Homo sapiens: one gene and its partners. The protein of the gene in region 3 interacts with the protein of the main gene of each other region in a biochemical or structural test. Each region holds a gene or a part of one and is shown on either strand. Other genes may lie near its edges.

Region 1 (3,500 bases), on a different chromosome or scaffold from region 3:
GGCTCCAAGAAAAGCAGTGCTTAGAGAGAAATTCATAGCTATAAACAGCTATATTAGAAAAGAAGGCTGGGTGTGGTGAATCACACCTGTAATCCCAGCACTTTGGGAGGCTGAGGTGGGAGGACTGCTGGAAGCCAGGAGTTTGAGACCAGCCTGAGTAACAAAGCAGCACCCTGGCTCTAAAAATGTTTTAAAATTAGCAGGGTGGCTGGGTGTGGTGGCTCACCTCTGTAATCTCAGAACTTTGGGAGGCTGAGGTGGGCAGATCACAAGGTCAGGAGTTCAAGACCAGCCTGACCAACATGGTGAAACTTCCTCTCTACTAAAAATACAAAAATTAGCCGGGCGTGGTGGCACGCGCCTGTAGTCCCAGCTACTCGGGAGGCTGAGGTGGAAGAATCACTTGAATCTGGGAGGCGGAGGTTGCAGTGAGCTGAATTTGCACCACTGCACTCCAGCCTGAGAGACACAGCGAGATTCCATCTCAAAAAAAAAAAAAAAAATTAGTAGGGCATGGCTGGGCATGGTGGCTCATGCCTGAATCCCAGCACTTTGGTAGGGTGAGGTGGGCAGATCACGAAGTCAGGAGTTCAAGACCAGCCTGCCCAATATGGTGAAACCCCATTTCTACTAAAAATACAAAAAATAGCTGGGCGTGGTGGCGTGCGCCTGTAGTCCCAACTACTCAGGAGGCTGAAACAGGAGAACTGCTTGAACCCGGGCGGCGGAGGTTGCAGTGAGCCGAGATCACACCACCGCACTCCAGCCTGGGCAAGAGAGTGAGACTGCATCAGAAAAAAAAAAAAAAAAGGCCTGGCGCGGTGGCTCACGACTGTAATCCCAGCACTTTGGGAGGCTGAGGCAGGCAGATCATGAGGTCAGGAGATCAAGACCATCCTGGCTAACACGGTGAAACCCTGTCTCTACTAAAAATTAGCTGGGCATGGCGGCACGTGCCTGTAATCCCAGCCACTCAGGAGGCTGAGGCAGGAGAATCGCTTGAACCCAAGAGGCAGAGGTTGCAGTGAGCAGAGATCACGCCACTGCACTCCAGCCTGGGCACAGAGGGAGACTCCGTCTCAAAAATAAAATAAAATAAAATAAATAGCAGGGCATGGTGGGGCGTGCCTGTGGTCCTAGTTACCTGGGAGGCTGAGGCAGAAGGTTTGTTTGAGCCAGGAGTTGGAGGCTGCAGTGAGCTATGATCACACCACTGCACTCCAACGTAAGTGACAGAACAAGACTCTGCCTCTAAAAATAAAAAAGATAAATCATAACCTAACCTTCCAAAGAAAAGCAAACAAAACAAAGCAAGCAGAAAGATGGAAATAATACAGGTTAGGGTAGAAACTATTAAGTAGAGGGCAGAATAATAGAGAAAAATCAATGAAACCAAAAGCTGGTTCTTTGAAAATATCAACAAAATTGACAAACTTTTAGCTGCATTGCCCGAGAAAAAAAGAGAAAAGACTCAAATTACTAAAATCAAGAATGAAAGAGGGGACATTACTACTGACTTTATGTAAATAAAAAGTAGTATAAGGAAACCCTGTGAGCATCTCTATGTCAACAAGTTAGGTAACTTAGATGAAATAAGCAAATTCTTAGAAAGATAAACTACCAAAACTCACTCAAGAAGAAAATCTAAATAGACCCATAGAAAGTAAAAAGATTAAACTTTCATAATGTTTAAATTTCCCATGAAGAAAAAAAATCAACAAATAGCTGAAAAATCAATGAAAGTTTATTCTCTAAACTTTTCTATATACTTAATATTTCATTTAAAAATTCATTGCACGGCCAGGTGCAGTGGCTCACGCCTGTAATCCCAGCACTTTGGGATACTGAGATGGGCGGATTACCTGAGGCCAGGATTTTGAGACCAGCCTGGCCAATTCATATACTCACTGTCATTTCAGTGCAACAAACATGTACTAGACACTTACTTCGTATGAAACATAGTCCCAGGGACTCTGAAGGATATGGAGAAAAAGAAGAGCTGATTCCTGCCTCCACAGAGCTTATAACTTAATCAGAAAGATAAACTATACAAAATAACTATAGTACAAGTAGATGTGATGGGTAATATGAGAAGTACTAACAAGCCATGGGAGCTCAAGGAATATAGACTACTTCCTTTGGTGAAAAACAGGAGAATGTATTAGCAAAGACAAAACTGGTAGAAATGGTCAGGCTAGTGGCATGTGCCTATAGTCCCAGCTACTCAGCAGGCTGAGAATTCCTTGAGCCCAGGAGTTTGAAGCTGAAGCTGCAGTGAGCTTTGATCATGCCACTGCACTCCAGCCTGGGCAACAGAGTGAGACTTTTCTTTTTTTTCTTTAAAAAAAAAAAAAAAAGGTGGGCACAGTGGCTAGTGCCTGTAATTTCAGCACTTTGGGAGGCTGAGGTGGGCAGATTGCTTGAGGCCAGGAGTTTGAGACCAGCCTGGGCAACATGGTGAAACCCCGTCTCAACTGAAAATACAAAAATTAGCCACGTGTGGTGGTGGGAGCCTGTAATCCCAGCTACTTGGGAGGCTGAGGCACGACAATCACTTGAACCCGGAAGGCAGAGGTTGCAGTGAGCAGAGCCAAAATTGCACCATTGTGCTCCAGCCTGGGTGACACAGCGACACTCTGCCTCAAAAAAAAACAGAAAACAAACAATACAATCATAATCTTTACTGGCCAGAAACAAAGAACATAAAATATTGAAAAGTAAAGACACGTAAGTCTATACCATATTGCATCTCAAATCATGTATTCTAGGTTTGCATTGTTGTGTTCATAGAAACAGAGAAGTGACTTGATTTCTGAAACCAAGATCTCGCAAGGCAAAAAGAAAAGATCCTGTCAGCATTTGTTCATTCACAAAAACTGATACCCAAAAAGCGAAAACAGAAAGACTTTAGGGACCCCTACTGGCTTAGTCAATATGACAATCTTTTAACAAAAATACTGTTAGGGACTCAGAACCCTTATTTCCAATTAAGCAACCACTTCAGCAAATATTCATTTGAGTAATCCAATAAATTTATCTAACGCTAACAGTAATCGATACGTGAAAATACAATTTTATAAATAAATATTTGCGGTGGGGCGCGGTGGCTCACACCTGTAATCCCAGCACTTTAGGAGGCTGAGGTGGGCAGATCACAAGGTCAGGAGATCGAGACCATCCTGGCCAACGTGGTGAAACCCTGTCTCTAATAAAAATACAAAAATTAGCTGGGTGTGGTGGCACATACCTGTAGTCCCAACTACTCGGGAGGCTGAGGCAGGAGAATCACTTGAACCTGAGAGGCGGAGGGTGCAGTAGACCAAGATCACGCTATTGCACTCCAGCCTGGCAACAGAGCGAGACTCCGTCTCAAAAAAAAAAAAAAAAAAAAAAAAAATCTGCTTTATACTACATAAAACTTCAAGGGTAAAGGCAATAAAACTGTGTAACTATATAAACACTGAAGAAATAGGTTCATAAAACAAAATGTAACCATGGGG
Region 2 (3,500 bases), on a different chromosome or scaffold from region 3:
TGAGACAATCCAACAGGCTTTCATGATTAAAAAAAAAAAAAAAAAATTCAGAACACTAGGAATAGAAGGGAACTGAGTCAACGTGATAACCCAGATCTAGTATGATACTTAATGGTGAAAGATTGAGAGCTTTCCCTCTAATTATCAGGAACAAAACAAGGATGCCTGCTGTCACCACCATTATTCAACATTGTACTTGAAGTCCTAGCCAGAGCAATTAGGCAAGAAAAAGGCATGCAAACTGGACAGGAAGAAGTAAAATGATCTACTCATAGATGGCATGATCCTATACATAGAAAATTTCAAAGAATGCACAAGAAAGCTAGTAGAGCTAATAAATGAATTCAGCAAAGCTGCAGGGTACAAGACAACACAAAAAAATCAGTTGTGTTTCTATACATTTGCAATGAACAACCTAAAAGAGAAATTAAGAAAACAATGCTATTTCCAAGAGCATCAAGAAGAATAAAGTACCTAGGAAAAAATTTAACCAAGGTAAAAGGCTGTACACTGAAAATTACAAAATACAGCTGAGAAATTAAAGACAAAAATAAAAGGAGAGACATCCATGCTTATGGACTGGAAGACCTAATAACCAGATGGCAATGGCACCCAAATTAATCTACAGATCAGTGCAGTCCCTATCAAAATTCCACAGCTTTTTCACAGAAATGGAAAAACAGATCATCAAATTCATATGGAATTGCAAGAGGCCCCAGATAACCAAAGCACACTGTAAATGAACAGAGTTACACTGAGGCTTCCTGATTTCGCAACTTACTACAAAGCTATAGTAATCAAAACAGTGTTGTACTGGCGTAAGAACAGACATGTAGACCAACAGCATAGAATTGAGAGGCTGGAAATTAACCCATACATTTATGGCCAGTTGATTTTTGAAAAGGATGCCATGACCATCCAAGCCCCATTGAAAAAATTGTCTCTTCAACAAATAATGCTGGGACAAATGGATATCCACATGCATAAGAATGATATTGAACACCTACCTGATATATGCAAATATTAACTCACAACGTATGTAAGAGCAGTAACTATAAATCTCTTACAAGAAAACACAGGGGTCGATCTTTATGACCTTGGATTTGACAATGGAATCTTAGATACGACACCAAAAGCAAAAAGAACAAAAGAAAAATAGGTAACTTGGACTTTGTCAAAATTCAAAACTTTTGGGTATCAAAGGACTTCATCAAGAAAGTAAAAAGGCAACCTACAAAATGGGAGAAACCATGTGGAAAGCATGTATCTGATAGGTAACTAATATCCAGAATATACAAGGAGCTCTTACAAATCATCAACAAAAAGGCAACATAATTAAAAAATAGGCAAATACTTGAACAGACATGTCCTCAAAAAAGATACACAAATGACCAAGAAGCCCATGAAAAGACACTCATCATCATGTCATTGGAGAAATGCTATCAAAACCACAATGAGGTATCACTTGACACCCATCATAATGACTATAATCAAAACATCAGAAAATAACCAAGTGTTGGTAAAGATTTGGAATCCTCGTTCATTGCTGGTGGCAATGTAAAATGGTACAGTAACTGCAGAAAACAGTTTGGTGGTTTCTCCAAAAATTACATATAGAATATACATATGACCTAGCAATTTCAATCCTAGGTATATACCCAAAAGAACAGAAAACAGGGTATGTAAATAAATATATGTATAGACATTATTAACAACACTCTTCACAACAGCCACAAGGTGGAAACTAACTAAATGTCTGCCAATGGATAAATGGATAGAGAAAATGTATAAACATGTAATGGAATATTATTCAGCTATAAATATTAATGAAATACTGATACATGCTAAAATGCAGATGAATCTTGAAAACATTATACTAAGCAAAAGACAGGCAGAAAAGGCCACATAGTGTATAATTTCTTTTATACTAAATATCCTAAATAGGTAAATCCACAGAGACACAAGACAGATTGGTGGTTGCCACGAGCAGGGACAGGGGGGTAACAATGAGGAGTTTAATGCGTATATACAGGGTTTCCCTTGGGGGTGACAAAAACATTTTGGAAATAGAGGTGGTAGTTGCACAACATTGTAAATGTACTAAATGGTCACTGAATTGTACCCCCTCTTTAAAAGCTGTGTGATCCTATTTTGCTTAAACAAATAAACAAAACAAATACATACGTACACACATACACAGGAACAAAGTCTGGGAGGACAATACTAAAATATTAATGAGTTACCAGCCTGGCCAACAGGGTGAAGGGTGAAACCCCATCTCTACTAAAAATACAAAAATCAGCCAGGCATGGTGGTGGGCACCTGTAATCCCAGCTACTCGCGAGGCTGAGGCATGAGAATCACTTGAACCCAGGAGGTGGAGGTTGCAGTGAGCTGAGATTGCACCACTGCACTCCAGCCTAGGCGGCAGAGAGAGACTCTGTCTCAAAAAACAAAAACAAACAAACAAAAAAATTGGCAGCACATTATAACATAATTATCAGCCTTGCCAAATATCTTAGACTTGTTAAAGCCAACACGGAAGAAGAGAACTAAAGATGTCAACCATCTTTTTCTCCAGAGAATCTGGGACTCCCAGATTGAACTGTATGGATTAATAGGAATCTTCTAGGGATAAAACCACATTTCCATCTCTGTTTTTGTTTTATTCAGACAGAGCCTTACCTACAGGTGCCTGTAGGCATTTGATAAAGCCTGCCTGTCCCTGGAGCACTCTGCCATCACGATTCCTTTTTATGGACAGAACCCTCCTCACTGCACTGCTGCCTGCCAGTGTCAACACCCAAATGTGAGATACAAAAACACATTCTCAAGGACTTCAGCATCCAATTTGAAAAAACATTTCCTTGGGACTTCTGAAGACAAAATTGGAAAAATTAATGAAAATATTTCTAGCACATCTGACCAAAAACTACGGGCTTTTTGGTACACCACAACTAGAGGCGATAGGGAGGAAAGCATACAGGCCCTCCACTCAGACTCTGATCCCAATCTCGATTCTCAGGCTCACCAAGGAAAAGACCTTAGAGGCATCATGTAGCTATTCTGGGCTTCAGCAGCTATCAACGTCATTATGAGGACTGAATAAGGTAGTGTCGGTAACACACCTGGAATGGCATCTGGCACATGGCTGCCATTATCATTAGTTAACAGTACTGATAAAAAACAGTGATCCGGGAGGATCACTTACATGGACCAATTCCTCATCATCTCGAGCAGAGTAAATAGCAAATCTCCTTTCCAATGTAGTCTGCAGGTTATCTTGTTCACTGGCTGAAAGTTCTGCATTAACTGTAAATGTTCCAATGAACCTGGGGAGAAAGCAGGCATTCCTTGTGTCAGAGGTCAGGGCAAAGGGGAATTTTCATTTCCAGCCAAGAAAATAAAAAGAGGGAGTGAATCGTGAGACCCGCCTGCCTCTGTCCTACTTTCCCCAGCCCGTCTAGCTAACTCCTATCATCACTGCAGACCCAGCTCAG
Region 3 (3,500 bases):
TCACTCTATTGCCCAGGCTGGAGTGCAGTAGCACGATCTCGGCCCACTGCAACCTCTGCCTCCTGAGTTGAAATGATTCTCCTGCCTCAGCCTCCTGAGTAGCTGGGATTACAGGAGCCTACCACCATGCCCAGCTAATTTTTGTATTTTTAGTAGAGACGGGGTTTCACCGTGTTGGCCAGGCTCGTCTTGAACTCCTGGCCTAAGGTGATCCACCTGCCTTGGCCTCCCAAAGTGCTGGCATTACAGGTGTGAGCCACCGTGCCCAGCCTGAATTTTATATTTTTGGTAGAAACAGGGTTTCACCATATTGGCCAGGCTGGTCTCGAACTCCTGACCTCAAGTGATCCGCCCGCCTCGGCCTCCCAAAATGCTGGGATTACAGGCACGAGCCACTGCACCCGGCCTGGGTTTTTAAAATTATATCTTTATTGAGGTATAGTGGACATAAACTGCAGCTATTTCAAGTGTACAATTTGGCTATTCTCAGCCTATGGGGTAGTCCTACTCCAGAGAAGCAGTAAGAAAAAAAGAATAAATTGTACAATTCCATGAGTTTTGACATATGTGTACAACTGTGAAGCCATCACCACAATTAAAATAACTCCCATTTCCCCACCCTTTGTTGAATATTTGGAGAGTGATAGATAGATGAGTTATCTATGCCCCTTTGTAATCCACCCCTCTCTACCCAATATCTTATTCACTGTAAACTGCTGATCTATTTTTTATTTTTAGAAATTAATTTACATTTTCTAGAACTATATATAAATAGAATCATAGAATATATGGTCTTTTATTTTTGTTCTAGCTTGTTTCAGTATAATTATTTGAAATTTATCTACATTTTTATGTGTAGTTTTTTTTTTCTTTCTGAATAATGGTTCATTGTTTTTTGTTTTAAGACAGGGTCTTGCTGTGTCACCCAGGGATGATCATGGTTCAGCATAGCCTCAACCTCCTCAGCTCAAGCGATTCTCCCACCTCAGCCTCCTGAGTAGCTGGCACTACATGCACAGGCCACCATACCTGGCTAATTTTAAAATTTTGTTATAGAGACAGAGGTCTCACTGTGTTGCACAGGCTGGTTTCAAACTCCTGGCCTCAAGCTATCCTCCTGCCTTAGCCTCCCAAAGTGCCGGGATTATAGGCGTGAGCCCCTGCACCCAGCCACATTGTACTGATATGATACAGTTTATTCATTTACCTGTTCAAGGACATTTGAATTTTTTTCTAGTTTTTGAATGCAACATATAAAGCGACTGTGAACATTCACGTACAAGTATTTGTGTGGATATATGTTTTCATTTTTCTTGGGTAAATACTTAGCAGTGGAATGGCTGGATTATAGAGTAGGAATGTTTTAAAGATACTTTTTAAATGAGAAAAGGTTTTTCTATTTGCCCACATATTGTCATTTCCAGTGCTTTCATTCTTTCATGTGATCCAGATTTCCTTTTGGTAATATTTTCTTTCTGCCTGAAGAAATTCCTTTCATATTTCTTATAATGCAGATTGGTGATAAATACTTTCCACTGTTGTTTATCTAGAAAAGTATTTTGCCTTTATTTTGAGGGAGGATGTTTTTGCTAAGTATAGAATTCTAGGTTCACAGTTTTTAAAATTATTTAACTTTTATTTTTTAATTGGTAAATTAAAATTGTATTTTATTGCATACAATATATTTGTTCACAGTTTTCTCCTGTCAGTACTTTAAAGATGATGTCTAGGCTGGGCGCTGTGGCTTACGCCTGTAATCCCAGCATTTTGGGGGGCCAAGGCAAGTGGATCATTTGCGATCATGAGTTTTAGACCAGCCTGGCTAACATGGTGAAACCCCGCCTCTACTAAAAATACAAAAATTAGCTGGGTGTGGTGGCGCTCACCAGTAATCCCAGCTACCCGGGAGGCTGAGGCATGAGAATCTTGAACCTGGGAGGCAGAGGTTGCAGTGAGCCGAGATGGTGTCACTGCACTCCATTCTGGGTGACAGAGCAAGACTGTGTCTCAAAAATAAATAAATAAGGCTGGGCGCGGTGGCTGACACCTGTAATCCCAGCGCTTTGGGAGGCCGAGGCAGGCGGATCACGAGATCAAGAGATTGAGACCACCCTGGCTAACACGGTGAAACCCTGTCTGTTCTAAAAATACAAAAAAAATTAGCCAGGCGTGGTGGTGGGCGCCTGTAGTCCCAGCTACTTGGGAGGCTGAGGCAGGAGAATGGTGTGAACCCAGGAGGCAGAGCTGGCAGTGAGCCGAGATCGGCCACTTCACTCCAGCCTGGGTGACAGAGCAAGACTCCGTCTAAAATAAATAAATAAATAAAGAATAAAAATAAAGATGATTTCTAGTTGGGCTCAATGGTTCATGCCTGTAATCTCAACACTTTGAGAGGCTGAGGCTGGGGGACCTCTTGAGGCCAGGACTTTAAGACCAGCCTAGGAAACACAGCAAGACCCCATCTCTACAAAAAAATCTTAAAAATTAGCTAGTGGCTTGAACTTGTAGTTCCAGCTGTTCAGGAGGCTGAGGTGGGAGAATTGCTTAAGCCCAGGGGGACAAGGCTTCAGTGAGCTAGGCAAGCCTGGGTGACAGAGCAAGATCCTGTCTCAATTAAAAACAAAACAAAACAAAACATCCTGATGAGAAGTCTGCTACTATCCTTATGTTCCTGTCTATGTAATTTTTCTTCTGGTCGCTTTAAAAATGATTATGATGTGCTTGTGGGGGGATCACTAAGCTTCTTTGATTTATGGATTTTTTTTTTCTTTTGAGACAAAGTCTCACTCTGTCGCCCAGGCTGGTGTGCAGTGCCACAATCTCGGCTCACTGCAACCTCCACCTCCAGGGTTCAAGCGATTCTCCCTGCCTCAGCCTCCCGAGTAGCTGGGATTACAGGTGCCCACCACCTCACCTGGCTAATTTTTGTATTTATTTATTTTTATTTTATTTTTTTAGTAGAGACAGGGTTTCACCATGTTGGCCAGGCTGGTCTTGAACTCCTGACCTCCAGTGATCCGCCCACCTTGGCCTCCTGAAGTGCTGGGATTACAGGCGTGAGCCACCTTGCCCAGCCCATTATTTCTTACAAAGAGTTCAAAATGAAGAAAAAGAACAGTTCTTTTTTTCTTGGGACTGCGATTACATATGGTCCTGCAGGTGGTTGATGCACTGTTCATTTTTGTCTTTTTCCCTGTTTCATTTTGTGCAGTTGTTCACTGATCTTTACTTCTGTAATATCTAACCTTCTGCTGTCAATCCCTCCCTCCCTCCCTCCCTTCGTTCCTTTCTCTCTCTTCTCTTCCTCTTCCTTTTCTCTTCTCTTTCTTGCCTGTGCAGAGCAGGGCTGCTCCATAGGCAAAGTAGCCCAGCGTATTTTTCATTTCAGATACTGTATATCCCCTCTAGAAGTTTAATTTGGATTTTTTTTCATGTCTTCCATTTCTCTCCTCATATTTATTATTTCCTCTTCTTTCTTTTTTGAGATGAGGTCTCACTCT
Region 4 (4,061 bases), on a different chromosome or scaffold from region 3:
ATATTAAAAACAAATGTACCCAAGCGCCTCAAAACTAGTGATATTAATACACTTGTACCTTCTAACAGTGCTTACGTGAAGTACCAAAACCTAAAATAAACCAAGCAGAGTAGCTGACTTGTAAGAAAACTGCTCTGCCTGGTGAACTTCAGCATAGAAGAGTGGGCTCCACCTTAGATTTTCCACCAGCAAGAGGACAACAGTCTATCACTCTTAAACAATAAACAGGGTAAGACTGAAAGTTGTGTCTATTTGCAAATCCGGATAATGTCGTAACTATACCCAACACGTACACAGGGATTGGGGTAAGGGAAAATAATTACACTCCTGAATAAATGTTCTAGTCAGTTAAATTTTCATCCGGCCTACAACCTTTCCTCCTCCACCTATTATACTTACCATGCAATTTTTGTGTCTTAGCAGATACATTCTTCAATGCCATAAAAAGCTGATCTTTTTAATACTAACATTTTACTGACGTGATATTAAAATAAGCAAATGGTCCACTTTTTAAAGGATTATTCAAAATCAACAAGCATTATTAAAGCTGTTAAGAAACAACTTTGGCCTCAAGATTTTTGCTAGCTTCATAATAATTTACTTCTCTTAGTGATGTTCAAGTATAACAGGTTTAGTTATAACTACATCCTAAAGAAGCACAGGGGACACCCAAATAATATTAGGGAAAAAAAACCCCAAATATATATATATATATATATTTGCTTAGTGGTACATATATAATAACCTTTCTTCCTTCCTTAAACCAGAATTGAACCATCCCATAATAGAGCCAAACTTTTATTGAGTGCTGTGTGCCAGGTACTGTGTTAAGCACTTTCACATATCTTGGGAGCTTTATTCTCATAATTCTCACAAGGGAATAACCTGAGCATCAGCTGTGTGGAGTGACCTACACCTTGACCATGATTCTGGGGGATGATGAATGAAAATGCAAAGTATAAATCTATACTCCTTAGGAAAATGCCTCTACTACAACACAAAGGAATCTCTCCATTTCTATCCTATTGAACCCCCAATTGAATCCTGTATCTTTTCTCTGAGCTACAATCTTGAAAGAAGAAAGTCACTGTGCTGTGTTATAAGAATGTAAATATTTTATGCTGTCAGTTGTTTCCTCAGAATTTATAAGTCAAAGGGTCTACATCAGTGTCAGAATCATTTAAAATTATTCAGTGTATTGAAAAGCAAGTAAAACTCTAGGTATTTCATGTTTACATCTGAAGGAGACATTAGTTCATCCTCTACCCCTTTTCTAAATGATGAAACTCATGAGGTCTAGCAGAGACCAAGGACTAATACAATCAAGAAGCATATTGTGTACACCTCAACAGATTTTCATTAAAAAAAATTGTTTGATACAAACCTACTGTAGTTCATGAATTTACTATGTGTAATCATCAACTCTTCACTTTTAAAAGAAAGTATCACTTGAATCTATTTTGTAAAGTTTTTAAACATCTACTTGAGCATTTGCATTAGCAGTATTAATCAACCTGAGAATCAGAAAAAAAAAAAAAGGTGCAAACATATTTGCCTTTGGCACGAGGACAAGTAATTGGTGCAGTCCAGCTCTAAATAATAATGTAATGCTTGGTCTGCCTCTGCTACATTGTGATTCACATATTGCTTCCCTATCCACAAATCTATATTTGATTTAGCATATAAAAGAAGGGAAAAAGCAATAAAAAGACAAATATGTGGTTTAGTTACATATACTTTGCTTCTTTCCAAGTTCAGAACTGTGAAAATAGGCAAATAGCTTATCCCATTGGGGCACTATAAGAGATTCCTAATAAAATTACTCGTAAAATATACTTTGAGATCGAAGAGAGTTAATTTAAAATATAAAAATCAAAGAGAGTGCCAGTTGATGAGTTTCTACTCCTTTCTGTAAATAGCATTAACTGTTCTAGAAACTTCCAAATGTTAATCTGATAGCGCAGCACAATTATATCTTAAAATAGTCATAGACACAGGAAGCACAGATACTATATTCACATTAATTCACATATGTAATCTCTATCATTAAATGATTTCTATAAAACCTCAAGTTTCTAATTAGGATTTGTGGTGTAAAAAAAGGCAAATTGGTAGCTGGGTTCTTTTCAGTAAAGACACAATCAACTAGCAGAATTAAGATGCTAGTCCACCTTATATGCATTTTAGGATCTGGTATATTAGTGCAGAGGTACTTGCAGCAGGATGCATGAATCCTGCCTTTATATAAGGCTTTGTGGGTGTCACCATTCTGTGCACTTTATTAAAACTACTCCACCCCCCAAAACCTAATAAAAATAATTGTTGCTTATGACTTGGGGAATATTTGGTGAAGTTGCTAATAAAGTACATTGTTAAATGCAACATGATTTCACATTGTAAATGTCTTGAAAATTCAGTTTCCGCTACATATTTTCTTCATAAAATAAAATTTTTATACAACCCTTGTCCTCCAATTTTTCCAATAATCTGCTTTATTAGGGCCATCACAATAAAAGTTTGGGGCAAGAAGCCATGCATAAAGTGTTTCTAAAGTAGTGAATGTTTTCTGTTCTGTATCTTTTTTTCTTCTTATAATTTCTTTACAAATGTCAGATATTTCTCTTCATATTTTTGTTCTAGGCTTCTGTGCGACGATAGTCCATTTTTTTAATTTGTTTTAACTGACAAAAATTATATATATTTATCATGTATAACATTGTTTTGGAATATGTAAGTTGTGGAATAGTTAAATTGAGCTAATTACACATTATTTCATATGCTTATCATTAGATATTCCATTTTAATGGCACTTGTTTTTAAAAATGAAACAGAGTTTTAGGCACAATAGTCAGTTACTTCTGGCTCTGCTTTGTGGAGAAAGGTGTATGGACTGAAATCTCTGCACTCTCCAGATAATAACTTTCTAATGCTTTAAGATAACTAGATTGTTTTTAACTGTCTGGAAATTAAAAGAGACCTTAAAAAAAATTCACAAGTGTAACTAGTGTATGTAGAAATAACCCTAATTTTAGGGATATGCACATAAAAATGACATTCTGATATCAAAAATAACAGTTTCACTGTCCCTTCTCAGTGGCTACACACCTAGAAAGGTGCCATGTGCTTTCACTGGAAGTACCACACTTGCATTTCTGTGTTGTGATGTCAGTAGCAGAAACCCTTAGTTAGAGCTTGCAATTTAGCTCCCTTTTCTCCTGAAGAGGAATCAAGTTACTACCCTGTAGAGATACTTCATTCTTCTATTTGGTTTATTTAGAAATCACCTATTCTGACTGATCTTTAAGAATGAATGCTATAAAGAGCTACCAAATTTTCTTTCAAATTCATAAAACTGTTCACACTTTTTTGAAACAGGAGTTAATGCCGAGAATCCATCAGAAGTATCTACTGTTTAGAAGGAAATGGAGCAGCACCAAATGGGTCTAATTCGACTGGTTGGGACTGTTGGGACTGATGTGGAGTGATGCTTTGCACCACAAGTTCTGTAAAGGGCACGGCACCAAAATCATCCATTTTCAATACATCTGCACTATGGAATGACCCATGTAGTGAATTTTGTCTTGGCCGCCCTGGCAGGACAGTATTGTGATCAGCACGGATGTCGCTCAGGCCCTGATGTGGAGGGTGCCATGACAGGTCTGGAGAATGGAAGGGCTTGGCACCGAAGGGGTCCAACAGGCTCTCCTCAGGTTGTAAGACATTCCCCCTATCTTTCCCATCAGTCAGTGCAACACTAATGTTCTCCTTGGAGTCTGAGATGGTTAAAAATTCATTGCTACTTTGAGAGTCTCGGCGGCCCACTTTTTTGTGCCTGCGAGCCCTCTCTGGAGTGCGATAGGTAGGCTTCAAAGTCTTCTTTGTGCTAGTTGGCGTGCCATGATGCCGCTTCCCATTACTTTTGGACATATCCTGCTTTGTGCGCCTTTGGCGAGAGGACAGTTTCTGTAAGCTGCGCTGTTTGACTTTTTGCTGCTGGCTCCCCGTTATTTCATCAAAGGGCACAAGCCCAAAAAGGTCCTCATTGCTTTCACTTTTACTTG
Region 5 (3,500 bases), on a different chromosome or scaffold from region 3:
CTTATTCCTTCCTCCACGCATTCGGTCGGCCCTTACAGCTGTTGGGGGTGGGGTGGGGGGAAGGAAGGAAAGGTATAAATAAGGTGCAAATTATTAGCATTCTTCAGATATTTAGAAATGTAAATCGACAAGAAGTGGTATGTGTGTGGTTGTTTTCGTTACAATAGCCCACAAAGATTTCCCAAAAAACCATGTCCTCTTTATTTATGAATTCCTTCCTCCAAGTGTGTGTCGTCATCAAAAAAATACTTTGGCCACATAGGGACATATTAACCCTTTTGTGGATGGAGGAGAGTTCATAATTTTTGTTAGACATAGAAATATTTCACATAGGCGTGGTGCGGTGGCTCACACCTGTAATCCCTGCACTTTGGGAGGCCAAGGCGGGTGGATCACCTGAGGTCAGGAGTTCAAGACCAGCCTGGCCAACATGATGAAACCCCATCTCTACTAAAGATACAAAAAATTAGCCAGGCGTAGTGGTGGGTGCCTGTAATCCCAGCTATTCAGGAGGCTGAGACAGGAGAATCGCTTGAACCCGGGAAGTGGAGGTTGCAGTGAGCCAAGATCACACCACTGCACTCCAGCCTGGGCAACAAGAGTGAAACCCCTGTCTCAAAAAAAAGAAAAGAAATATTTCACATTGCTAAGAAAGAGTATCAGTCGTTCTACTAAGAGTATATGCTTTTATTATGCCAGTTCCTTATGGAAACCCAAACTGCTTTGGGGTTTTCTTTTGCAGGGGTGTGGAACTGAGTTACCCAATTTTGGATTAAATTGTGAATACTTTCCCACAAGATACCTTCCTCCCTGAAAGCCATTTTGGCCACCTTGTTGCAATAACAAAAGGGGTGGGGACATGTTCTTGGAAAATCATGTTCACCTGGACTTGATGAGCCCACATCAGATGACCACCAGTTACTGCTTTTAATTTAAGTAGAATTGGACATAATTAAAACAAATTCATTTCAGAAGCTGTCAAGAGAGTCTTCTGCGACAGTGGTGTGTGGAGTCTGCGGCCATGACTAATAAGTTAGTTAGCAGTTCCCTCTAAGTCCATAGTGGCCAATGGCAATTAGACAGAAACTAGAGACCTCTGATAGCTTGTGACATATTGAACTTGCTGGAGGTTAAGTTTTTGAGCTTTTTATCTTGGATTAGTATCACATTAAAAATTTATTGTAAATTCTAAGTATACAGAATATTGCACAAGATTATAAAGAGTTTTTCATCTGGATGATAATTTATTGAATATTCAGTTGTTTCATATCACTCCTAAGGAAGCATGAGCATGTACCACAAGTGATTTACAATTGTGAAAGCTTAACTTAAAAAAAAGAAAGTTTAATTATTTAAGGTAAAGAAATGCAGCCTTATTATTTTTGTTGAAAAGGAATTAAATGACATCATGCAAAATCACAACATTTACTTATCTTCTGAGTCTCTTACTGTATGTAGTAAGCATCTACCACAATATTTTGCTATTTGGGAAATAATAGTGATTGGTAATAAGAAAATTAATAAGCATCAATTATTTCCTTTCATGATCTCTTAAAAATGATACTGACATTAACAGTCCTCATAATAACCAAAGTGGCTACCTCTGTTCGGAAGAAGCGTGTTAGCTATTCAGCAGATTTATATGATTTTTTTTTTTAGTATTTCTATCAAGTATGAGTTCCATATAACAGAAAAGTTCCAAATAAAAATAGCCTGTGCCTCATTGATCAAATAAAATGCACTCTTGTATCTAGCACCATCGGTGATATGTATCCCTGTTATTGCTTTATTTGCAGTATATTTAATCCATGGAAAGCAAGCAGGTCAGAGGCTAGAAAGCAGCAACATACCATAGTAGTCCATGAACTACAAATTATTTACAGCAGTCACATATTAACTTTACTGCCTGCCAATCTGTACATTGTAGTATAGGGTCTGCTCTTTCAACAAAGTTCAAGTGTGGCTTTTCAGGAGCCACTTTCTTGTTCTTTTCAGACCTTTGCTAATGATTTAATAGTTCGTTATTTTTCATGTTTCCTGATTCTCAATTTTTTATTTTGCAGCCTCAGTCATTATCTTTTAAAAAAATACATTTCTACACTATCAAAGATAATATCCTACATGAGAAACTCCTTTTCACCATTAAAGGCTTTAACTCTTAAGAATCATGAAATTAGTAGTTAACACTTGTGACAAGCACACCTCTTTTAAAAAGAATTGAAATCAAACTTTTCCAAGGGTATCTTGATTTAAAAACTCAAAGAATATTTTACTTTTAATAGTTTTACAAATTATTCTTGTTTTCAGTTGGATTGCTTTAGTCTTATTTTCATAACCTGATCTTTTTCCCTTTTTTGTGTCTAATGCATCTGCTCCCCAGACTAAAAAAAAGGGGGTGGGCAGGGGAAAGACAACTAATATTTTAAATTTTTTTCCTAGTAGATTTCACCATGATTAAATGAGACTCAGACTATTCTGCAGATGAAACATAGAAAGATCTTACAGTATTGTCGGTAGTGTTAAAATGCTGGGAAAATAATGTTACCATGCTATAAGTACAATGTTGTTTTACAGTTCATGTCCTTGGAGAGTTTTAATAGGCAGTAGTCTTTAGAAGAATCTTACCTTCTAGCTTCATTCCAACACTTAGACATTTTTGAAAACGACAGTAAGGACAACGCTTTCTCTGTGTTTTGTCAATTTGGCAGTTCTGGTTTTCTATACATGTGTACCTTTTATTATTTTGGACTGTTCGCTTAAAAAATCCCTATAAGACAGAGAAAATAGTGAGACGTATTATAAATCTAACACCCGTCTTTTCCATTGTTTCATTTTAAGAAAATCACCAGTAAATCCTCTCATTGCACTATTTGAGCCCTTATGTGGTTCTGTGGTTTATTTTACATTTCAGCAACATCAACCTTCCCAAACTGTGCCAGGCCATGGTGGAGATTTTTCTGGCATCAGTTTTATTCTTGAAGAATTACGTCAAATCCTGGGGAGATTTGGCTACCCACCATTTTATCCCAACAGTCAGAAAAAATACACTCTATATAGATAAATTTTTTTTTAATCTATTTTCCTATTATCCCACATGTTCCTGATAGAGGTACTCATGAAGTCCTGGCATTGTTTTTAAGTAGTCTGATATAATTTCAGTGATAAACCATTGCAAAATGCCAGTGGAAAAAACTGAATAGCAAAACACCTCAGATTTTTTTTTTTTTTTAACAAATGTCAACACTGGATAGTTAAAAGCAAAAGGATTTAAAGAGTAAAATGGGAAAATGCTCATAATTCCACTGGAATACATTCAAGTATGGGAACTGTTCTTAAAAAGGCAAAACTAATGGAAGGAAAAAGCATGTATCACAGATAGCTGAATTGTAGCACACAGGGTATGAGCTTTCCTTATATTTTATATAAAAGAATTAATCAAAAATAAAATGTGTAGCTTTATAATATGAGATTTACCAGGATAGTATTCATATTTAACCCAC
Region 6 (3,500 bases), on a different chromosome or scaffold from region 3:
TCCCTGCACCACAGCGGTGAGTATGGATGATAACGGAGAGCAGGGGAGGGCAGAAAGTGAGTAAGTGCTGCCTCAGGAAACTCTTACCGCCTGTCCTTAATGAAGGAATAGTAGTGGCCTGCGTGTGCCTGCCCACTGTGTACGATGACACCGACAAGTTCATAGTTTTCTGTGAGGGCAACCTTTTTTCGTGGGGATCCTCCACCGCCCTGATCCACACTTCGCCCATTTTCCCCAACTTCAGAAGAAGAATCTTGGCGAGCCATTCCTGAAACTGTGTAAGGCTCCATGTTTAGCATCCAGGGAAACTATGTAGAAGCAAAAAGACCATATTAACGTTGATTACTAACATATACAGCAGTACCCAGTTAAGTGAGATCCAAATAAGAGGAAGTGTTTTCCTAGTTTAAGCTAGGAACAACTACCTCACCAGTTCAAGTATAAAATCTCAGAAATGTTAAGTCTGGGAACGTCTAAAGTAGCCTCTGGTTTGAGCCCTAAGGAAGGCATTTTCCTTCATAGTAATCACTAGGATGCCTTCTAGAAATGAGGGCCACTGTTTCCAGATCTGCCTATTCCGGTAACAGCAGCTGCCTAAGATAAGGGGCTCTTCATAATGCTGAGACAACAGCCTTAACATGGTAGACAGAATATGAAAATTGAAAAAGGAAAAAAAAAGAAGTGAGTGAGGAAATGAATGGTTGTGAAAAATTTCAGGAAGAAAAAAAGTTACCCTTATTTGTTCATCATATTTAATGGAGCGTCCGCTTTCCCAGTCAAACCCAAATCTCATTAGGTGAATTACCAAGACGCTAGGTAAAGATTTAATACAGGTCCTTTTCACTGTTATTCTCTAAAGAAAAAAAAAAGGAAAAAGAGCAAATCTGAATGATCTCCATGGAGAAAATAAAACAGCACAGTAATTAATGCAAAGGCCTTTCTGATCCATGTGAAAACAAGTAATGACACAATCTAATGGAAATAACAGTAGGAGCTTAATACTGATTTTACATAAAACAAAGACGCACTATGCGAATAACAAATTAATCTTGTTTTTTAAAAAGGGCAAACATAATACCTTTTCTTTACACTTTTCACAGTAGTACGCATTACTTCCTTCTAGAACTTCTCCTCTAACAAATTGGTCCAAAGAAATTTCCAAACTCTGACAAGAAGTCACTCCTAGATTGAGAGCCATGAAAGCTTCTTCACGCTCATATCTGATTAGGAAATAACAGAAAACCCACAATCAACAATGGAATTTAAAACTCTTCAATTATCATAATACCTAAGCTTGAACACAGAACTACATTTTTAATCTGGGAGTCCCTCAATATTTTAAAAGTCCATTACTAAGTTAAAATGCCACTTTGTGACAATTAAGAATTGCCTAAAATTATGAATTTCAATGAATATTTTCTTAAGCCCACAAAGAAATTTTTTCTCCTTCTGGAAGTAGAAAGCAAAGAAATTTAAGTCACTAAATACTTATAGATCTGTTGACAGGGAGAGAGTTCTAAGTCTCTTAACAAATGCAAAATTTACAACATACTAAACAAATCACTTCAAAAGGATGATCATTTTTCCTGTGTCGGTGATATCTTCACTCACCTGTGAGGACAGTCTTTACAGATCTTCTGATCAGAGTAGATGCCCTGAAATGTATTCTTAAAAATTTGGTCTCTCCCCATTTTCTGTTGGAATGAAAAGTTACAGTTTTAAGTGATGCCTCCTGAACTTATGAGTATACAGAATTTTATTAACACATTGCAATTTAAGGACCAAAACAAAACGCGTCATTCTGGTAGTATCAGCTGTGGTGAATGGAGGCTAAACCCATTATTGGCCCCACTGTCAGAGTGATGCAGACGATCAGAAGAGGAAGAGGAGGAGGGATGGGTCAGGTAGAGCTAATGACAAGAGAGTGTTCTCCAGGGTGATTCTGAATCCTTCTCCCTGTGCTACAAGGACCAAGTTAGGGGCAACTCTCAGCAATCTTTTCTTTTTTCTTGTGGATAGAATGCCATCAATTTGCAAGTTACTTTAAAAAATGGAAGAATTGTGCCTACTGATGAGAGGCCAATGCTGGCAGTGACAGCGGGATCTGAGAAGGCAATACCGTTTAGGAAGTCTGCCACATGGCTTACAGGGTAGAGGTAGAGAGCTTTGGGTTTCAACAGCACCACGAATAACTTTTTAATCTGGCTCCTTTCTCCCCTGTGCCAGAGCACTCTCTGCTCTGCACAGGGCCATCAGCTCACCAGTGACTGCAGCACTCTTCTGAGGCCAGATTATTTCAGTAGACACACAGAAAGAATATGTAGGTAGGAATGGTTATTACTATGTAGTAGAGATTAAGAGTTACATACTTTACTGAGCGTTAGATGAATTAAGAAAATATGCAATTCTAGGCCAGGCATGGTACCTCAAGCCTGTAATCCCAGCACTTTGGGAGGCTGAGGTGGGTGAATCTCTGGAGGCCAGGAGTTTGAGACCAGCCTGGCCAACATGGCGAAACCCAATCTCTGCCAAAAAGTACAAAAATTAGCCGGGCGTGGTGGTGCACACCTGTGATCCCAGCTACTCGGGAGGCTGAGGTGCAAGAATCTCTTGTACCTGGAAGGTAGAGGTTGCAGTGAGCTGAGATTGTGCCACTGCACTCCACTCTGGGTGACAGAGCGAGACTCTGTCTCAAAAAAAAAGAAAAGAAAAAAAAGAGAAAATATACAATTCTATTGATCTGTGTTATGTTTTGATGTTTAAACACAGAATACATTATAGTTCTTATGTTAAAGATAATCAATTTCTGATTCGTCAGTTTCATAGTAACCCCAAATGCTAAGACACTATTCTCATACTATAATTAGAGTTTGAGGGAGTTAGAGGGAAAGTACAACTTTTACTACCTTGAGGTATTCATCCATCTGATCAATGAGACTAGTAAAGAATTCATATGCATCCTGCTGTTCTCTCACATAAAGTTCTTTATTCCACATCTTGAAAATCTATATAACAAAAATTAAATGTTTTTAAAGGAAAAGTAGCAATTTCTGAATGTGGTAGAAAGGGAACATGAAAGAGCACTTAAATGCTTATAAAAATCAGGTTCACTATTAGGATGTGGACATTTCTAGTGAAGTGAGACTAGCTTGTATTCAGCCATCCACCCTTTTTTCTAGTCCCCTTACAATCATAACAAGTCTCTGAAATCAAAAGTGGGTACTGGGTAAGATCTAGGCCATGGAACAGAGAATTTCTCTCTTAGAAACAAATCAACCTATGGGGAAAAACACAAGGTGATCCTCCAATATGTGAAACACAGTAAAGCAATGTTTAAAAATAGTATTCTTGGCCGGATGTGGTGTCTCACGCCTGTAATCCCAGCACTCTGGGAGGCCGAGGCAGGCGGATCACCTGAGGTCGGGAGTTCAAGACTAGCCTGACCAACACGGAGAAACCCCATCTCTACTGAAAACACAAAATTAGCCGGGCATGGGGGT
Region 7 (2,978 bases), on a different chromosome or scaffold from region 3:
ATCATCAGAAAACTGGCCTGATCCCTCCAGAGGCGGGGTGGGGGGAGAGGTGAGCCCTTGTTCCTCGGCCCCCAGGCTTGAGGGGCAGGGATTGCAACGGAGCCCAAGCAGCTGGTCCAGGGAGGAGGGGACCACGAACTCCTGACCCAGGGGGGCGAGGACCTGCCACAAATAGGGAATTTAAACACTCACTGGGCACAGTGGCTCACGCCCGTTAAGTCCAGCACTTTGGGAGGCCAAGGTGGCCTGACTGCTTGAGCCCAGGAGTTTGAGACCAGCCTGAGTCACATAGTGAGACCCCCATCTCTACAAAAAATGCAAACAATTAGCTGGGTGTGGTGGCACACACCTATAATCCCAGCTACTCTGGAGGCTGAGGCAGGAGAATTGCTTGAACCTAGGAGGCAGAGGCTGCAGTGAGCTGAGATCACGCCACTGCATTCCAGCCTTGGTGACAGAGTGAGACTCTGGCTCAATAAAATAAAGTAAACACACTGAGATGCAAGAAAGAAATTGTTTTTATTGCATTGAGGACTTTTCCAGAAGCCTGGTGGACCCACGTCTCCCTCCAGCCCCAAAGGCAGTGCAAGCCTCTACTGATCCCCCACTTCAAGGTGGGTCTCCCCTCCTGCAGGGCCCATGGAGGAGGGGTAGGGTGGGCTGTAGGGGGCCCAGAAGGGAGGCCCTGGGGACAGAGGGAGTTCACTCCTGTTTAAGCTGGAGACCAGGGAGGGCCCAGCCTCACCTCTGGACAACACAGCAAGTCAGAGGCTGGGGTGTGGCAGGGGCTCACCTGTCACCTCTGGGGTGTGGCTTCTTCCCGGAACCGCACCAGAGGCCCCTGGAGCCCAGGGAGGGACCACGGAGGGCAGGTGTAACCCCTGGCCTGGAGCACAGCTCTCAGAGCCCTGAGGCTCCCGGGGACAGAAACAAGTAACAAAGTGAGACCACGAGAGAAAAAGAATCCACAGTTTCTACAAAAAGCCCCACCCTCCCCAAGCACCCTGGTCAGCTGGGGACCGCCTTGGCCTTCACCCTTTTGGGGGGTCTGTGGGGGGCAGGGCTGGTGGGCCGCTCCCGTTTGGGGCTGGCGGGCTCTGAGCCGTTGTGCTGGGCGCAGGGCTCCTGCTTGGGGCCGGCGGGGATAGAGCCGTTGATCCGGGTGGGAGATTCCTCCTTGGGCTCCAGCTTGGGGGTGGGCGGGCGGGGCAGGGGTGGCAGCGCCCTCTCCAGCACACGGGGGCCGTCCCAGGCGGGGATCTCCAGCCCCAGGTGCTTCATGAGCCGGGTCATGACCTCGTCAACGTAGCCATGGATGCGGAGGTCAGCATGGCGGTCCTGCCGAGGGGCGGGACGGGTCAGGCGTGGGGGACAGAGGGTGCATGGTGGCCCTGGGCAGGGGTAGGCTCAGACACCTACGTGCTTGGTGGGCTGCAGGTTGACGATGACCAGGCGGCCTCCCCGGCGCTTGGTAGCCAGCGGCAGGTTCCCGCTGGGCCGGATCTGCAGCGATGTACCCAGCGTGATGGACAGGTCGGCGTTCCTGGGGCCGGGGAGCGTGGGCTGAGCCTGATGCCCTGCTCCTGCCAACATCCCGAGCCAGCCCTGGGGGCCGGTTCACACCTAGGCCATCTGTGCTCACCGGGGCGGTCAAGGCCAGCCCCACTCCCGAGTCAGCCTTTGGGATCCCGCCCTGCCCTCCTCTGCGGTCCGTTGGCGGGGTCATTGATCTGGGCGGGCCCTTAGACACTTCCGGGGAGTATCACAGTGTGGTAAGAGCTTGGACACCTAGGGTGGGACCCTGGCTCGGTCACCTCCCGGCTGGGCAGCACTGGATAGAGGAGACACCTGGCGGAAGCCTTGGTTTCCTTGTGTAGCACCCACCCAGAGCCATGAGGTGACGAGTGTGTGTGAGTGCGTGTGTGCAGCCCCTGGCCTGGCCCACCTGCTCCAGGAAGCCTCCCCTCACTGCCTGTGAGCCTCAGCCACTGTCCCATGCTGGAGCTGGCTGTGTTTCTGCTGTCGTCCCGCCCCGCCCCACCATGGGCTCCCTGGGGGTGGGGGGTCAGACCTGCTGGCCTCATCGGCGAGTGCCAGGTCCCGGTCGGGCAGGGAGTCCTCCCAGTCTAGGATGGTGTCCCTCAGCTCTCCCCTGCAATGAGGAAGCTGAGGAGAGTCCTCAGGGGCCTCGCAGCCTCCCCTGGAGCCCAGGGCATGGGTGGGGGTGGCTCACCTGCAGGCTCGCAGCCCCCTTGCCTTAGCCACGGTGCAGAGCCGGCCCGTGGCCTTCAGGCCCATGGTGCCCACGACTGTGTCTCGGACGTACTGCCTGTGTCAGGGAGGAAGGGGGAGGATGGGACCAGGTGAGCTCCCATGGGTGACTCTCGCACTGTTTCTAGGGTGACGTTCTCCCAGGGAGGTGGGGGGTGGACAGGTGACCAGAACTAGCACCCAGCGACACGGAACGAGTAGCCTTCCATGAATAACGGGCTGGGATGCTGCTCGGTGCCCGGAGCACAGAAAACAAAGCAGGAAACTGTCCCAGACAGACGAAGGGGCTCGAGAGACAAGACCCAGCATGGGATCCCGGACCAGGAGAAACAGGAACAATTGGAGCATGGGGGCGACAGGCCGAGTCTGGATTCGGGATTAGAGAAGGCGATGTCCACTTTACTTTTCCTGACTTTAATCGTTATACTGGGCCGGGCGTGGTGGCTCACGCCTGTCATCCCAGCACTTTGGGAGGCTGAGGCGGGCAGATCACAAGGTCAGGAGTTCGACACCAGCCTGGCCAATATGGTGAAACCCCGTCTCTACTAAAAATACAAATATTAGCCAGGTGTGGTGGCGGGCGCCTGCAGTTGCAGCTACTTGGATGGCTGAGGCAGAATAATTGCCTGAACCCGGGAGGCGGAGGTTGCAGTGAGCCGAGATTGCCCCACTGTACTCCAGCCTGGATGACAGAGCGGGACTGTCTC

What was found.
Region 1: the proteins of DDB2 (region 3) and RAD51 form a complex in vitro, tested with the Homo sapiens proteins (one study listed by BioGRID).
Region 2: the proteins of DDB2 (region 3) and XPC form a complex in vitro, tested with the Homo sapiens proteins (one study listed by BioGRID).
Region 4: the proteins of DDB2 (region 3) and PAQR3 form a complex in vitro, tested with the Homo sapiens proteins (one study listed by BioGRID).
Region 5: the proteins of DDB2 (region 3) and NR5A2 form a complex in vitro, tested with the Homo sapiens proteins (one study listed by BioGRID).
Region 6: of the proteins of DDB2 (region 3) and USP24, one has a biochemical effect on the other in vitro, tested with the Homo sapiens proteins (one study listed by BioGRID).
Region 7: the proteins of DDB2 (region 3) and SIRT6 form a complex in vitro, tested with the Homo sapiens proteins (one study listed by BioGRID).

The regions. Positions count from the first base shown.
Region 1 is NC_000015.10:40,701,674-40,705,173, reverse strand, and holds part of RAD51 (DNA repair protein RAD51 homolog 1), read right to left. Parts: intron 3,369-3,500; coding exon of another isoform or gene 3,248-3,368; intron 1-3,247.
Region 2 is NC_000003.12:14,161,602-14,165,101, forward strand, and holds part of XPC (DNA repair protein complementing XP-C cells), read right to left. Parts: intron 3,333-3,500; coding exon 3,212-3,332; intron 1-3,211. UniProt on the Homo sapiens protein: Involved in global genome nucleotide excision repair (GG-NER) by acting as damage sensing and DNA-binding factor component of the XPC complex. Has only a low DNA repair activity by itself which is stimulated by RAD23B and RAD23A.
Region 3 is NC_000011.10:47,221,474-47,224,973, forward strand, and holds part of DDB2 (DNA damage-binding protein 2), read left to right. Parts: intron 1-3,500.
Region 4 is NC_000004.12:78,911,378-78,915,438, reverse strand, and holds the end of PAQR3 (progestin and adipoQ receptor family member 3), read left to right. Parts: 3' UTR 1-3,405; downstream 3,406-4,061. Other genes in the region: BMP2K (BMP-2-inducible protein kinase), read right to left, coding at 3,406-4,061. UniProt on the Homo sapiens protein: Golgi-scaffold protein which modulates its interactors acitivies by anchoring them to the Golgi apparatus. Functions as a spatial regulator of RAF1 kinase by sequestrating it to the Golgi apparatus.
Region 5 is NC_000001.11:200,044,710-200,048,209, reverse strand, and holds part of NR5A2 (nuclear receptor subfamily 5 group A member 2), read right to left. Parts: intron 2,768-3,500; coding exon 2,626-2,767; intron 39-2,625; coding exon 1-38. UniProt on the Homo sapiens protein: Orphan nuclear receptor that binds DNA as a monomer to the 5'-TCAAGGCCA-3' sequence and controls expression of target genes: regulates key biological processes, such as early embryonic development, cholesterol and bile acid synthesis pathways, as well as liver and pancreas morphogenesis.
Region 6 is NC_000001.11:55,096,865-55,100,364, forward strand, and holds part of USP24 (ubiquitin carboxyl-terminal hydrolase 24), read right to left. Parts: intron 3,006-3,500; coding exon 2,907-3,005; intron 1,695-2,906; coding exon 1,612-1,694; intron 1,221-1,611; coding exon 1,079-1,220; intron 854-1,078; coding exon 734-853; intron 309-733; coding exon 88-308; intron 1-87. UniProt on the Homo sapiens protein: Ubiquitin-specific protease that regulates cell survival in various contexts through modulating the protein stability of some of its substrates including DDB2, MCL1 or TP53.
Region 7 is NC_000019.10:4,173,609-4,176,586, forward strand, and holds the end of SIRT6 (NAD-dependent protein deacylase sirtuin-6), read right to left. Parts: intron 2,330-2,978; coding exon 2,234-2,329; intron 2,153-2,233; coding exon 2,072-2,152; intron 1,544-2,071; coding exon 1,420-1,543; intron 1,339-1,419; coding exon 1,009-1,338; 3' UTR 501-1,008; downstream 1-500. UniProt on the Homo sapiens protein: NAD-dependent protein deacetylase, deacylase and mono-ADP-ribosyltransferase that plays an essential role in DNA damage repair, telomere maintenance, metabolic homeostasis, inflammation, tumorigenesis and aging.